2 separate regions of the Homo sapiens genome follow, and region 2 is linked to region 1. The links come from fine-mapping of genetic effects on plasma protein levels. Region 1 holds a variant in brackets. A gene starts in the other region. All regions are shown on their reverse strands. Region 1 has its middle 8.4 kb from the start of HSPA12B. Region 2 holds the start of GPRC5C (G protein-coupled receptor class C group 5 member C).

What was found. A credible set is the group of variants that fine-mapping cannot tell apart. PIP is the posterior inclusion probability: the model's chance that the variant is causal. Protein levels are from antibody-based Olink assays in UK Biobank. Linkage for the fine-mapping came from a reference panel and not from the study's own genotypes, which makes the PIPs less certain.
Region 2: it holds the start of GPRC5C, and the variant in region 1 is the best candidate, but not a certain one, in a credible set for the plasma level of the GPRC5C protein (UK Biobank, PIP 0.62).

What each region holds. Positions count from the first base shown.
Region 1 is chr20:3,722,823-3,725,835 of GRCh38, reverse strand. No RefSeq gene overlaps it. Among named protein-coding and RNA genes, the nearest start is that of HSPA12B, 8.4 kb to the left of the region's middle. The variant C/G (reference allele first, on the strand shown) is at 1,368.
Region 2 is chr17:74,430,971-74,433,470 of GRCh38, reverse strand. GPRC5C (G protein-coupled receptor class C group 5 member C) reads right to left here and starts at 1,383. Exons shown (of 4, transcript NM_022036.4): 1 at 1,330-1,383. RefSeq lists a silencer at 2,371-2,500.

The DNA of each region.
Region 1 (3,013 bases):
CAGTGGCACCATCATAGCACACTACAGCCTCGAACTCCTGGGCTCAAGAGATACACCCTGCTCAGCCTTCTCCCATGGTGCTGGGATTACAGGCGTGAGCCACTGCCCCAGCCAGACTGCCTTTTAAAAATGGACATTTTAGACCAGGCATGTGGTTCAACCCTGTAATCCCAGCACTTTGAAAGGCTGAGGCGGGCGGATCACCTGAGGTCAGGAGTTCTTGACCAGCCTGGCCAACATGGCGAAACCCCATCTCTACTAAAAATACAAACATTAGCCAGGCGTGGTGGCGCATGCCTGTAGTCCCAGCTACTTGGGAGGCTGAGGTGGGAGAATTGATTGAACCTGGGAGGTAGAGGCAGGAGAATCGCTTGAACTAAGGAGGCAGAGGTTGCAGTGAGCAGAGATTGTGCCACTGCACTCCAGCCTGGGTGACAGAGCAAGATTCCCTCTCAAAAAAAAAAAAAAAATTGACTTTTTATTTTATTTTTATTGTTTTCTAAGAGACTTTATTTAAAAAAAAAGTTTTAGATTTATAAAATTATTGAGCTGTAGTACAGAGTTCCCATGTATCCCCTCCCTCACACGCAGTTTCCCCATTATTAACATCTTGGATTAGTGTGGTACATTGTTAAAATTAATGAACTAATATCAATACATTGTTGACTAAAGCACATAGTTTACATTAAGAATCACTCTTTGTGTTGTACTTTCTATGGGTTTTGACAAAAGCATATCATGGATCCACCATTATAGTATCATATAGAATAATATCACTGACCTAAAATTCCCGTGCTCCACCTATTCATCCTTTCCTGTCCCCAGAACCCCCGGCAACCCTTGATCTTTTTACTGTCTGTAGTTTTGCCTTTTCCAGAAAGTCAAATAGTTGAAATCACACAGCACGTAGCCTTTTCAGACTGGCTTCTTTCATTTAGTAATATGGATATTACTTTTTGTGGCTTGACACGTCTTTTTTTATTGCTTAATGCATATTAATATTACTAAATGCATATTTAGTATGCATATTACTTTTTGTGGTTTGCTAAGTCTTCTTTTTATTACTTAATGATACTCCATTGCACAGATATACCACAGTTTGTTTATCCTTTCACCCATTGGAGAGCTTCTTAGTTGCTTCCAGTTTTTGGCAATTATGAATAAAGCAGCTATAAACATTCTTGCGCAGGGTTTTGTATGGATATAAGGTTTCTCTCTCTCTTTTCTTTTCCTTTTTTATTTCTTTCCTTTCTTTCTTTCTTCCTTCCTTCCTCCCTTCCTTCCCTCCCTTCCTTCCCTTCCTTCCTTCTTTTCTTTTCGTTTCTTTTCTCCTTCCTTCCTTCCTTCCTCTCTCTCTCTCTCTCTCT[C/G]TCTTTCTTTCTCTTACTCTGTTGCCCACGCTGGAGTGCAGAGGCATAATCGTGGCTCACTGCAACCTCAAACTCCTGGGGCTCAAGTGATCCTCAGCCTCAGCCTCCCCAGTAGCTGACACTACAAGTGTGTGCCACCACATGTGACTAATTAAAAAAATTTTTTTTTGTAGAGACAGAGTATCACTGTGTTGCCAGGACTGGTCTGGAACTCCTGGCCTTGGCTGAGCACAGTAGCTCACACCTGTAATCCCAGCACTTTGGGAGACCGAGGCAGGCAGGTCACTTGAGGTCAGGAGTTCAAGACCAGTCTAGCTGACATGGTGAAACCCTGTCTCTACTAAAAATATAAAAATTAGCTGGGCATGGTGGCGTGCACCTGTAATCCCAGCAGCTACTCAGAGGCCGAGACAGGAGAATCGCTTGAAGCCGGGAGGCAGAGATTGCAGTGAGATGAGATCACTCCACTGCACTCCAGCCTGGGTGACAGAGCGAAACTCTGTCTCAAAAGAAAATAAATAAATAAATAAATAAAAAGAAAGAACTCCTGGCCTCAAGCAATCCTTCCTCTTTGGCCTCCCAAAGTGATGGGATTACAGGTGTGAGCCACTGTGCTCGGCCCTGGATATAAGTTTTCACCTCAATTGGGTAACTATCTAGGAGTGTAATTGTTAGATTGTATGGTAAGACTATGTTTAGTTTTGTAAGAAACTGCCAAACTGTCTTAAAAATGGCCATACCATTTTACATTTCCACCAGCAACGAATGAGAGTCCTGTCACTCCACATCCTCACCAGCATTTGGTGTTTTTAGCATTCTGGATTTTGACCATTTTAATAGGGGTTTAGTGGTACCTTGTTGCTTCAATTTGTAATTCCTTAATGACATCAGGTTAAGCATATTTTCATATGCTTATCTTCCATCTGTATATCTTCTTTGATGAGGTGTCTGTTCACATCTTTTGCCCATTTTTTTTTTTTGAGACGGAGTCTCACTGTGTTGCCCAGGCTGGAGTGCAGTGGCGCGATCTTAGCTCATTGCAACCTCCCTGGTTCAAGCTATTTTCCTGCCGCAGACACCCAAGTAGCTGGGACCACAGATGCACGTCACCACGGTCGGCTAATTTTTGTATTTTCAGTAGAGACGGTTTCACTATGTTGGCCAGGCTAGTTGAGAACTCCTGACCTAAGGTGATCTGCCCTGCTCGGCCTCCCAAAGTGCTGGCATTACAGATGTGAGCCACCGCCACCATGCCTGGCCCGTTTGTCCATTTTTTAATGGGGTTGTTTGATTTCTTAGTGTTGGGTTTTAAGAGTTCTTTGTGTATTTTGGGTCATCAGATATTTGTTTTGCAAATATATTCTCCCAATCTGTGGCTTGTTTTCTTATTCTTTTAACAATTGCTTTTTTGTTGTTGTTGTTGAGACAGAGTCCCACTCTTTCGCCCAGGCTGGAGTGCAGTGGTGCAATCTCGGCTCACTGCAACCTCTGACTCCCAGGTTCAAGCAATTCTCATCCCTCAGCCTCCCAAGCAGCTGGGATTACAGGTGCACACCACCACGCCCAGCTGATTTTTGTATTTTTAGTAGAGACGGTATTTCACCATGTTGGCCAGGCTGGTCTCGAACTCCTGACCTCAAGTCATC
Region 2 (2,500 bases), not on the chromosome of region 1:
TGTGTAGGTTGGTGGGGGGTGGGTTGGGGTTCCTCGAACCTCAGCCTAGACACCCCACCCCTATCCCCCTGCCCCTGCCCCGCACCAAGACCAGGCATTTGGGCCAAAATGCCCTGAGCTCTCTGAGACTTGGAAATCTTCAAGGGTCTGCTCTGGAATGTCACTCTGGAATGCGCCCCACCCCCCAATGCACTCCCTCCCCCAGTCCAGTTGAAGGCACAGGGGTGGGGGGCCGGCGGGGAGAGGAAGCTCCAGGAGCACAAAACCCTACTTCCAACAGTCTCCTCTCCCGGGCTTTAGGATCTTGATCGTGGAGTTTGTAAGTGATTGGGTCTTCCAGCGTGTAACACTGCGGGCCTGGGGATGGAGGTGCAAAGGACGCTGGAAAAGCCAGCCGGGAGTGGGGGTTCGGGATCTAGGGGCCAGGCTACCAGAAGGGGAGGCGCTTTGATAGTCTGAATTTCCAAACTTCCCTCAGGGGGATTCTGAACCCTCTCGTCCCTACTTGGGTCGACGGTACTGGGGTCTACACCTGCGCTCCCTGGGTGGCTGGAATGGGGAGCAAGGGAACCAGTCACTCTCTCCCATTTTTAGGGCCACAGAAACCTGCCCTCCACATCCACAGTAGCAGGCGGCAGAGAGGACGCCACCCACGAGAGAGAGTGACCGCGGACTCCCACCGAGAGGCAGGCGGTGGAGGGGCTCCTCTTGGAGACCCCGATTATGGAGTGGTTTCCCCTCCCTCCAGCCCGAGCCGCAGCGCCGGGCTCCCCCACCCCCCCAGTCCCCAGCCGGCTCGGGTTTGAAAACTTTCAGCGACCGAGCGGAGTTGGCGCGGCGTCCCCAGCCCGCAGGATGTCCAGTCCCCCCGCCTCTGCCCTCGCCCACTCCCCGCCGTCCCGACCCGACTCTTCCGGGCGGCGGAGCGGGAAGGCAGCAGCCCTTACCTGGGACTCGCCGCCGGCCCCGCTCCAGCGCAGCGTTTGGGGCCAACTCCAGCCCCAGGCGGGGGGCGGGCGGGGGTGGGAGGGACGCGGCGCGGGGCGCTGGGCCAGGCCCGGTCCTGGCTGGGATGGCGGGGCCCGGGCCGGGACGCAGGGCCTGCCTCTCCCTGGGACCGAGGCTGAGCCAGGCGCGCTGGGTTGCTCGCTCTCGCGCGGGCCTGTCCCCAGGCAGGGCTCCTTGCTTTCGGCGAGGGTGGGCTGGAGCCTGCATCACCGTTACATCACCTCCATTCAGGGCGCTAATCGGGCGCCCGCCGCGCTCCAGGTACGTGCGCTCCGTTTACACAGGAACAAAGCCTGCCCGGCCCTCCCCGCCCCGACTCACCTCCAGGCTGAGCCGACTCGTACTTTCCGGCTGGTGAGGGAGATGGGAGTTTCTGGCCCTGCCGGCGTGTGGGTTGTTGCTGTTGACTGCCACGCCCCCGCATGCGGGCGCGCGCACACTCACGCGCACTCACTTTCTGGGCTCGGCCTTCGCCGGGGCAATTGGTGTGAGGGTGCAGCCCTGCGCACCCCCCACCGCGTCTTCCAGAGAGCGCGCCTACGGACACGCGCGGGGCTACCTTGGCGCGTCTCCGTGGGGGACACCTAGCCTTTGTCACCTTCGTCCTGGCCCTCCCGTGAGACACACTTCAGGCACAGTTCGCTGGGAGCGGGCCGGAGCGAGGCGCACACTCAAGACAGAGTCCGTCTTTGTCACGCCTTCTGCGCCCCCTCCCCTCCCCAGCTTGCACACGTGGACACACCGCACACCGAGGTTCGCCTTTTGCACGCACGGTCCTTCTCTGGGACCTCCACCAGTCACCAAGCGTACGTGGGATCGTCACCAAGCGCTCCTCTCACGCGTGGGCCGAGTCCAGACCACTCTGGACCGTGGGCAAAGGTCCCCCTCGGCCCGACTACCCCGCGCCCGGGTTTCCTGTGACCGTTCCAGGTTCTGCCCAACTCGGAGCGCGCTCTCCCCTCCCGGCGTCCCCGTTCCCTGCTCCGACTTGTCCTAATTAGCCTTCACGGTTTTGTTCCCCGAGGTACAGTGTTTAGCGCGACCCCCTGGGCCTCTGCGCTCCGGGACACGTTGGCTCTGACTCCGAGTCCGTCCTTTCCAGGAGGTCAGGTTCCCACCAGCCCCACCCCCCACTCCCTGTTCCGGGGTGGATCTGTGGGTTGCCACCCTTTCCCCTCCGGCCCCAGGAATCTGCTGAAGCTGGACCGCAGAAATTGGGAAGCGAATCCAGGCTGGTACTTATCCAGCCCGATAAACAAGAGATTTTCCGGCCGCCTTCCCCCGGGGCTGCTGGCCTCGCGGGGGGTGGGGTGCGCAGTCCTGGGGGCCCGCAGCGAGGCCTAGTTAGCCCGCGCCAGAGGCCCGTAGGGGCTGAGGCGCACAGAGGAGGGAGAGGTTGTTGGGCCTGGCCAGGGCCCTGGAGACGCGGAGGGAGGGCAGGGCGCCGAGTCTCGGGGTGCCGGTTCTCATGACGCCGAATTGCCTGGGGGAT